2 linked regions of the Homo sapiens genome follow. The protein of the gene in region 1 purifies or fractionates together with the protein of each later gene. This does not show direct contact. Each region holds a gene or a part of one and is shown on either strand. Other genes may lie near its edges.

Region 1 (5,304 bases):
ATGTACAAAAGACAGAAAAGTGAAACAGCACAATTATTAGTTGAGTGATTCGTTGGGCCCCATGGTGTGAGGAAGAGAAGAGCGGAGTTAAAGCCAAGGTCACAGTCACGGGGGCCCTTGTGAGCTCTGCTCAGGAATTGGGAATTTATCCTCAGTAATGTTACTAAAAATAGCTAACATTCACTGAGTGCTTTCTGCAGGCCAGGCATGGCACTAAGCGCTTTATACGGTTAATCTCACTGAATCCTTGCATCAACCCTAGAGGTAGGGACCATCATAATGGCCGTTTTGCAGATGGTGAAACTGGTGGTCCAGAAAGGTTAAATAGTTGCACACCGTCACATTTTCTAAGTAGCAGAACTTGGGTTTGAGCCCAAGTGTCAATATCTGCTGTGTACTATACCACCTCCCCAGCTCAGACCATGGGTGCCATGCAAAGTCTTTCCATTGAAGGAGAGGCGACTGGCAGCTTACCACAGGTAATAGAACTTATGGTGTCCCATCTTCCTTCTCTGTCAAGTGACATGCTGCTCTCCCATTCCCCACCTCCAATGTCTCACTAAGTGAGGTGTGCTGCCCCCTGGCGCACCATGAGAAGAAGAATGGGCAAGTTAAATTTGGGTTGGCAAGCTTGATGAAGAGCAAAGGAAAAGTGACAGATGTTTCATGGTTCTGATTTGAACCTGTTGTACTTCCAGGGACAGATGCTGACATCCAGAAGGTAGTTGGAGGGAAGGGTCCAGGTAGGAAGTATGTTCAGGATGGAGATCTGGGCTGGAAATGGAAACTTAGAGCTTTCAGCAGAGGTTGGTCATTGGAGATGTGGCACTGAGTTAGATTGCCCAGCGAGAGTGCAGACCTGGGGTTCTCACTCCTGGTGACATTAGCATCACTTGGAAAGCTTTAAGTAAAAATACCTATGCTCAGGCTCCAGCCCTAGACATGCTAATTCATTTGACCCTGGGATGAGGCCTGGGCATCGGGAGTTTTGGAAGCACCCAGGTGATTCTAACGTGGTGTAGAGGGTAAGAAGGAAGGGGGCTGAGTCAGGAGCCCAGAAATACTCCAACCATCAAAGCAGGAGAAGTCTGCAGAGAAGGCTGAAAAGGAGCAGCCAGAGAGGTAGGAGGAAAGCCAGGAGTAGGAGGCGCTGCAGAAGGCAAGGAGAGTGCCCTGCTCGGGGGGAGGGAAAGTGCCCTGTTTCTTTCTGCTGAGAGACTTAAGGTGCATTCTCAGAAGTTCATGGATAGATAGAAAAAGAATGAATAATTTAAAAAGAAGTGTCCATTAGATCGAGCCATGGTGAGGGTGCTGGTGACCTTGGTAGGAGAAACTCCACTCAGCGCCCGCAGAATGTAGGGCCCAGTACAGACAGGTTCTTGTTGAATGAATGAATGAGTGACTTGGTGGGAATGGAAGCCAGTTTGGAGTGGGTTGAGAAGCGAGCTGGAGGTGAGGACGTGGAGACAGCATGTATAGACAGCTCTTTCAAAGAGTTTGATGGTTGAAGAGGGAGGAGAGAGATAGAAGGGAGCTGGCGAGGGGTGGGGTCAGGGAGGGCTGTCGGGAGAGCCTGGAGTGGACACTGTGGGCATGCGTGTCCGTGCAGCACATCGCCATGCAGGAGCCTGGGGGAAGGCCTTTCCCTCAGTGAGGGCTGCAGGTCTGTGAGTTAAGATCGTACCAGTGAAGTGTGTAGTGGTTACTGTTTGTTCAGGGGGCAGTCAGGAAGGCCTGGGTAGAGGGAATAACTCTTTCTGTGAATCTCTGGGAGGGAGATTTTGATGGCAGGAAATGTGATTCCTGCTGGGGGTGGCAGGCAGAAAGGGAAGGGAGCCCTTGCTCTGCAGAGAGAAGGGTGTTCCAGAAAGCCGTATTTAGGGACAAGATTAAGTTGTCTAGGGCAGGTATCCAGGGTGATAGGATTGGGAGAAGGGAGCTGGAGTAAAAGCCCTGCGGCTAAATACATGAAGAAGGCAGAGAGAGGAAAAAGCAGGGCCAGTGAGTAGCCTGTGGACAGAGGCTGGGCCCCGTGGGGAGCAGACCCACGACAGGGCTGGCCAGGGCTGCAGGGGAAGCCTGGGACGGGAGAGCCCCACAGCCTGCTGCCAGCCCAGGCTGCCCTGATGCAGGGGTCTGAGGCAGAGTTCATGCCTTTGGGCCATGGAAGGTTCTAGAAGGTGTACAAGCTATAACAATTGTTCTTATGAAGTTTACATACAAGTAGGGAGATACCATTAAACCAATCCATACAGAAGATAATTTGAGATAGGGGCTAGTGCTATGAAGGAAATACAACAGGACAATGTGATGGAGAGACGTGGGGGTGACTCTAGACTGGCTGGGCAGGGAAAGCCCCTTGAAGGAGGAGACTGAACTGAGACCTGAATAACATGAAAGAACCAAGCCCGAGGAGGTCTAGGGAAAGAATGTTACAGAGGGAACTGCAAGTGCAAAGGCCCTGAGGCAGGGGCAAACTCTGTGGGTTGGAGCAGAGGGAATAGGGTAGGGATGGAGAGGTTCTGTGCCTCTGTTTCTGACCCACCCCTTCAGACTGCCCATTCGGCTATGCACAGCTTACACCACTCGCCTCAGGCTGGCAGCGGTTCCTGGGGATGAGACTATTTTTAGACACAACTCTCCTATCCGTGGGCCTAGAACATACCGTGTCTTTTTAAGATGATCAATATGGAATGACGCTATTTATAGAGACCCCACATCAATTCTCAGAGCCTGGGAGCCCCAGTGTGGGGACAGTCCCAGGACCAGGCTTTGTGGAGGTAGGCACCACCCCTGGCACAACACTGAGGCCATCTGACATCAATTCTTTAACACTTATCTTACCTTCTCCACCCCGCCTGCCGTCACTTGTCTTCCCTGAAGAGCCACAGCCATGGGCTGGGGAGCTTGGTACCCACAGCCTCCCCCTGCAACTTCATTTCCCCAAGGGGTACCTGGTATGCCCCAAGTCCAACATAAAATTTAGTTGTGATTTGCGAAGCCAGAGTCTGATAGAACAGTTTCTCAACCTCTCTTGTCCATTCCTCACTCTGTTTACTATTCTGGAGGGGCAGAAAAGGACAGTGAAAATTCTTAAGACCTCCTAGGTTCGCCTCAGAGGGCCAGGGAGAGATCCGCCCAGGACAGGAAGAATGTAAGGTTGAACTTAGGGGCTGAGCTTCCCTGGTGGGAGGTCATTGTGGCCCAGAGCAGCCAGGCGAGACTGCCTGGAACAGGTGGGACTGGTACCCCTCCACAGAGGATGCACAGAATTCAGAGAGGTGAATGCCCAGATCATGTGACTGGGCCTGTTGTCAGGAGAGAATGTCTATGCACTGAGGCTTCAGTTCTTTCTCTCCTCTTCAGTTTCTTCTTCTGTTTAAATCTCCTAGGGAGGCAATGGAAAGTCATGTCCCCACAGAGGTATTAGCAGAGTGGAGGGATGGAGCTGCTCTCGCAGCATCTCTGTGTGCCCAGGAGGGTCTCTTGTCCACTCAGAAACCCCTGTCATCATCACCAAGGGCTTTCCTTGGCCTCCTAACAGCCCTGGGTGGCCAAGGCTGGTGCTGGCTGCCCCATAGGCTCAAGGTCACACGGGGAAGTGGGCAGAGCTCAGACAGGACTTCACCCTTACCCTTGCCCAGGGAGCCCCCGTGGTTTCTGGGAATGGATTTTGAACAGGAGAGAGGCTTCTCCTGGCACCAGGAGAAAGGTAAATGCCGTTCTGGTAGGTATTGATTCCTCGAAGGCCTGTGCAAGGCAAGAGGCCGCTTTCAAAGAGTTGGCAGAGCAGAGAGAGGTAATCTGGCTTCAGGCACCAAATCAGTTCTCAGGGTACTCAAGCTACATTAGCCATCCCCCTACACTCAGGCTTGGCTGGGAGGTACCCCAAATGATCTAAGATGGGGGAAAAATCAGACCATGGGTGGGACCAGCCAAGCCCAATCAGTGCACCCTGCCTGGCCATCAAAGCCCCAGCCTCATCGACCTGGGCCAAGCGCAGGAAAGTGGCCCAGACAAGCCCCTCAGAGCCAAGGTGCCCGCCCTTGGCTGCGCAGCTCTGCTGCCTCTGGGCATGCTCCTAGGAAGAACCCCAGCCCCGCATTCATTCTGTACTGAGCCCAGGGCTCCACTCAAGGGACACCAGCTGGTGTGGGGTACAAGGAGGCTGAGGGCCAGAGACCACCCACCCCAGCCTCTGTTCCTCATGTTCTGCTCATAGACGTGGTCAGAAGAAGACACGGGAGCTCAGCCGGCCATTTGCAGCGACAGCCTCACCACTGTGCTGGGTCAGATGCAGCACAGACTGCCAGTTAAATAAAGCGACAGCTAGTTGCCAGCAAAACTGGAAACCCAAGGAAAGCCCCCACTTGCTTGCGGAGCCTAGGTGCCTATTAGATGTCTAATTGCTGAGCTTCTGTTTCAGGAAGTCCGAGGGAAGGAGAGATAACAACTCCCTAAGGATCCCTTGGGGTCTATGGTCCCCAGAGATAGCTGGACTTCAGGTCCCTTCCAGTCCTCGCCTTTTATGATCAAATTAAGGACACGTCCCCAGATGGGTGACTTGTATTCACAGTGCATTACACAGGGAGCTTAGATCACACTCGCCAACAAATAAAAGGTAAAAATCTCAAACATCGTGTTGAGTAAAAACAGCCTGACACAGAAGAGCCCATAAGGTAGAATTCCATATGCATGAAGTTCCAGAACAGGCAAAACCAACCTAGGTGATAGAAATCAGAGCAGTTGACTGAAAGGAATAGTGGGACTTTCTGGGGTGAGGGGATGTTTGCTGTCTTATTGGAGTGGCACTCACACAGGTGTATGCATTTGTCAAAACTCATCCAACTGTATACTTAAAGCATTTTCTTGTGTTTAAAGAGTACCTCAGTATGAAAGAATATTAAGAAAAAAGGGTTGCACATTTGGCTATAATACATCATGGACACTTTTGTGGCATAAATTTAGTGTATTGGTTGATTGGCTTATTTCCCTCTGGACACTAAGAGACCCTAGAGGTGGGCCTCCGAGGTTTCCATCTCTCTTGGTGCACACAGTAGGTGCCCCATAAATGCCTCAGTTGCCATGGCATCAGTGCACAGTTCCTCTGTGAAGCTTTTTTTCAGCTCAAGTATTGAGAAAAATGAGTTGGAAGGAATTGAGCTAGAAAGAGACTTAGAACGCTGATTGCTGTCTCGGGCACCTGTGTGCCATGACGGTGTTTCCTGGGCCACATGTGGGCACCTTTCTGGCCTGATTATGTATACCATGTGTGTTTACACAGAGATGGTCTGGGGTCCGGGG
Region 2 (5,304 bases), on another chromosome or scaffold:
ATCTGAAGGTTTGTACTTAGCAGTACAAATTCAGATACTTTCTTCTTCCCTCTATCTAAAAAAGCCCAATCTCTTCCTCTTATTCCCCAGTTACTTTATTTATTCCTTTACTAGGCTTTTTCAAAAACTTTCAATATCTTCGCTAATTCTTCTAACTATAAAGGGGAAACAAAGTTCCAATTAGGCACTCATCCTTTTTAATACTTTTGTTATGGATTATTCCCACATAAACTGGGCGACTAATCCATTCAAAGAGGCCATGCTTGCGTAAGTAGCTCCAGATGGATAGGTCTGTAGGAGGGAGGGTAAGGAGCTGATACCATCCCAAAGAGCAAGAGAATCGAAGTAAATATGGGTGGATAGTTAAGATTCACAAATAATGAACACCTAATAGAAGCATTAGGCCACAACATCTTACATATGTCAAGCTCACGTTAGAGTTAGCATGCTGGGAAGGAGGTTTCCAAGAAATGTAGATGCTTAACCAAACAAGTATAAGCTTACTCTGAGAGGATAAAGAAAAACTTCAAAGATCTACTTCCTATCTGCTGCAAAGAGGATGAACTCTGGTACTGATTTCATCACATGAATCTGTGAGGCCTGTCTCTTAAGAAGAGTGAATTCTGATTATACATATTCTCTTTCCCTCTTCATTCCAACTGCTGGACTATTTGCCAAAAATAAACATTGTTAAATCTGTTTCAAATGCAACACGAAGCCTGCTTTCTTCTACCCCTGTAAGATCTTATTCATAGGTTTCTCTAAGTTCTTTTAATAGTTTCTACAATCCCACAAAGAAGGTTTTTTGGGTCAGGAAAGAGTAAGGAGATTTTATTTCACAAGTAAAACAGTAATTTTTTTCCTTCACCAGTAAGATGGGAATAATATGAGTACTCATCTCAAATGGTTATTATGAGAACTAAATAATGCTTTTAAAGTGATTAGCACATTGTCTGACATTCAAGTGTTCAACGACTGTTGATGTACGTTACCTTCCTCTGATAATATTAACTAAATTTTAAAGGATAATGTCAGAAGAGTTAACATTCAATGCTAACTACTAAAATATTTTATCTTCAGTACCTGGCATGCATCCAATAAATGGTTTGTAACAATACATTCTTCCTGAGGTGAGTTATGGAACTAGGTTATTCAGCAGTAACTAGACACCTGTAACTCCACTCCAACCTCCTGCCACCTTCTTCGCAAACCTTAGGCTCACCTAATTTCCAAACAAACTTTTTCATAAACACCATTCAGGCAAGTTGCGACTAAAAATGCAAATCTAAATAAAAGGTACTTTATAGATATAATGTAACAGTTTACTTATAATTCATTTTTCTTATGGAACTTTGTACAGGGACAAATGCAGCAAGTAACTATTTGATACTTAGATTCTTCAATATTAAAAGTTCAATTACAATCTTTGAATTAAATAGACTTTACCAATTTTTTTCTTGTTTTGTTTTACTCTTTTAAGTATACAGAATAAAACTAAGATGTTTCTTTTTACTCTTTTAAGTATACAGAATAAAACTAAGATGACTGAAGGATACAGTTTCATTTAATACAAACCTTCTTGTACTCTATCCTAAATACTAGGAAATAGAAAACAATTCCATATATGTGTTATGAAACTCCAGATCTGTAGTATAAAACTGTAGCTAAAACTGCTTTCCAAAACTTACTGACAGCTAGGGCCCCACATGACCTAGATTCACCAAGCAGATATGCTGAATGAAGATTTGGAAGGAGAACATGGCCTACCTGGGTTGGGAGGACAGAGGACCAGGAACCAGGATGGTAGTAAAGGGTTTTGTTCATCTGGGGTTGTCAGTGGTGGCTAACACGGAGTGGGCTAGGGGAATTAAGGTAAATAGAACCTACAGTGCTAGGCTATTTAAAACAGGCAGCTCTGTAGCAGGCCAGTTCAAAGGTGTGGTTCTAGAAGTTTCTAGAAGTTGAAAATACTGTCTGTTCCTTTAGGTCTCCCAATGTGTCTGGAAACTATTGTATTCCCTCTAACAAATCTCTCAGTTTAAACCAACCGATTTAAATTCTGTTGTCGAAAACTAAGAACCCTGACCAATAAACTAGAAAAAAAGAACATTTCAATGAAAGTCAATAAACTTTTCTAGAGTTCACAAATATGCACAAGCTTTTGACATCTTCAGTAGAGTTTTACATCTGCTCTATTTTGATTCATGTGATAGGCACTGAAAATATATGTGAAATATATATTTAATACTGGTGACATGACAATTTATTCTAGGAATTCCTTTATAGATGATTGATCAATTTTCATTAATCAAGATGGTCTTTTTTCAACCCTCATGTATTAATAATATCAAAACAAAAAGGAAAGTCTAGGAGTTAGCCTTTAGCCTAATTTCAATTGACAAAAATAATTTCAATTACTAAAAAGCAGAATTAGAAAATACATGGGAAATGAATCAAATTTTGCTTTTTGTTAATTAAATAAATAATGAGTGCTCCAAAGTCACAAATCTTTATTTGTGATATTTAAACTTTAATCTGGATATTTAAATTAAACTTAAATCTGGATATTTAAACTTTAAAAAATTATAAAACCAACTTCAACTAAAAGAAGATTCCCTCAAAACATCAAAGTACATTGTTAAACTTATTTGGATATAAAATAATCACTGAATCAAAATGAACTGAAACAACTGTAAAGACATGAAGTCTTGTGTATAATATATCGATCTGAACCAAATATTTAAAAGAATCAGGCAGAAGACTCAATGTTAACATGACTTATAATCTATTTTACAGATTCTGACAATACAATTTTCCATAAAAATGTAAACTTCTGAGGACATAGTTTTAAAAACCATATATTTTTAAAATAATATAAATATGTTAATACCACCTATATAAACTCATACTATAAGGAGCAGATTTTATGAACAATTTGAGTCTCCTGACAGCAGTAAATGTTATCTTAAAAAAATAAACATTTATAAATTATTTGAGATGAAAAATTTTTTATATTTTAATAATCTAACGTTTCTGGCTACATTGCAGGTATTTTCACATATATCTCATGAATCCATGTAATGAGTCATCGAAACAGAATTATCCCCATTTTTCTTAAAGCAACTGAATAGTCTGAAGTACAGATTACTTAGGTAACTTAACAACGAAATAAGTGGTAGAACCACATAGGAACCCAGATCTGCCTAACTTTTCCAAAGGATTTTTTCTATTAGACTATTAAATTATTATTAGATTTTTGAAAGGTAACTCAATAGCAGTTCAGTAATTTTTTCATACATAAATATAAAACATAAAATATTCTACCAAATAAACATATCTTCCATCTAAATTAAATGTAAAGAGTTAAAGGGAGGAATAGGGTATGAACTTTGGTCTTTGAAGATAAAGTTGAGTGCTCTTGACTAACCACGTGATAGGAAATAATGAAGACTCTATAAAGAAAAATCATTATGTAAACAGGGTTTCCTAATACTTTTTCTACTGAATTAAACTTTTTTGAAGTTTACTGACCTATTAACCAGATCTGTTCAATGGCCTAGCAAAGGCAATGGTAGACTGTCAGAGGCAATAGTCATTTTCATTTGTCACAAGCCTGGTAATTAAACTCATTAGCCTGCCAATCAACTGCACTGCTAGTGAAATTTGTAAAAGCAGAATGAAATAGCTTACCGTGCACATGGATGTCCTTGTGATTTTCAGGGTAAAATCTGATGAAAATTCCAAATCTGAGATAGACGTCGTATGGCAATCTATATGCTACCCATTAAAAAGAAGTGAAGAAAGAGCTTAGTAAAAATAGTCCAAAAAAAAAAAACAAAAAATAAAACAAAAACAACCCAGACAAACATTACTTCTTTTATGCACAAATGATTATTGGAAACCAAAGTTTTGCAAACTTTACTCACATGCTAATTTTTGGAATTATTTATAAGTTTAAGGAGTACTAGTACTATCATCTTGTTAATTTTTTCTTAAATTCATTTAACTTAGGCTCCTTGTAAACAATAGTATTTATCAAATCATAGTGCTAATGTGCTAAAGTTTTCCTGACACACTAAAATAAATACTTTCAAATAAAAAATGTTTTCCTGTGTTTCACCTAACATCATTTTGCCTACTGTGTATGGTACACCCACCACAACTGCTATAAAATATGTGTGATAACAGTCAATACATTTATAGGAACTGCCAACTTGAAAACACATGCTAATGAAAAGAAAGTTGTTTTAAAATTCATGTCTATAATTGAAGATAAGTTTTGTTAGATATGAGGAGAAACCACACAATTCAAACAAAACAGCAAAACTATGGAGATTTCGATCCAGAGAAAAAATAGCGAAATATCTTTATTTTCCCATTCTGCCCTTTTTCAAATCCTTCTCCATTATACTTTGGAGAAGGGATGGAATCACCTTTCAACTACAGCAGTCTAACCAGAAGTGTGCTGTAAAGACCGTCATCAGCTGAGTAGATCCAGCCAGGAGTAGATCATAACCCAGTGAATGCAATTAATGTAACCACACATCTGAGACACTATTGAAAACAATTTGAGAAAACATTTTAACAGTACAATGTGTTTGTGGGAGGACTGGAAAATACAGAACAAACTATTTACTTAAATAAATGTTAAAAAAAAAAAAAGAGTACATACACTTTTTAACACCTTATTTTCAGGTCTAAATTTTTCTGTCTCAACTATTTATTCATGGCAGTTTTTGCATTAAGCAGAGATCACTAGAGAGAGAAATCAGCAACCTCCACCAACTCTCCTCTTTCTGCTCAACTTTAAGGCTTAGTTGGTTATAACTGTACACTCCTATCCTGAGCCAAAGAGCCCAAATAAACTCTTTATTCTCACTGTACCAGAGCACTGAAGTCGTATAACCATCAAGCAGACTGTTTTTCTTAAAAGCTGAACGCACTTTTAATCAGCCTGCTCTTGTTAAGAAACTTCACATTTATTACTCTATACTATTAATGCTTTATCCATTTAAGAAAATTAAATATGTACTAAATATCTGCTTTGTACAGAGAAGAAATATTGATGCTATATGAAAGTAACAGCGTGATTAAAACGAGAAGACAGCACTTCGGGAGGCCGAGGCAGGCGGATCATGAGGTCAGGAGATCAAGACCATCCTGGTCAACACGGTGAAACCCCATCTCTACTAAAATACAAAAATTTAGCCAGGCATGGTGGTGCATGCCTGTAGTCCCAGCTACTTGGGAGGCTGAGGCAGGGGAATCGCTTGAACACGGGAGGCGGAGATTGCAGTGAGCCGA

The links.
Region 2: the proteins of SCN5A (region 1) and PRMT3 purify together in Homo sapiens (co-immunoprecipitation; one study listed by IntAct). This does not show direct contact.

The regions. Positions count from the first base shown.
Region 1 is NC_000003.12:38,642,050-38,647,353, reverse strand, and holds part of SCN5A (sodium channel protein type 5 subunit alpha), read left to right. Parts: intron 1-5,304. UniProt on the Homo sapiens protein: Pore-forming subunit of Nav1.5, a voltage-gated sodium (Nav) channel that directly mediates the depolarizing phase of action potentials in excitable membranes.
Region 2 is NC_000011.10:20,462,933-20,468,236, reverse strand, and holds part of PRMT3 (protein arginine N-methyltransferase 3), read right to left. Parts: intron 3,778-5,304; coding exon 3,691-3,777; intron 1-3,690. UniProt on the Homo sapiens protein: Protein-arginine N-methyltransferase that catalyzes both the monomethylation and asymmetric dimethylation of the guanidino nitrogens of arginine residues in target proteins, and therefore falls into the group of type I methyltransferases.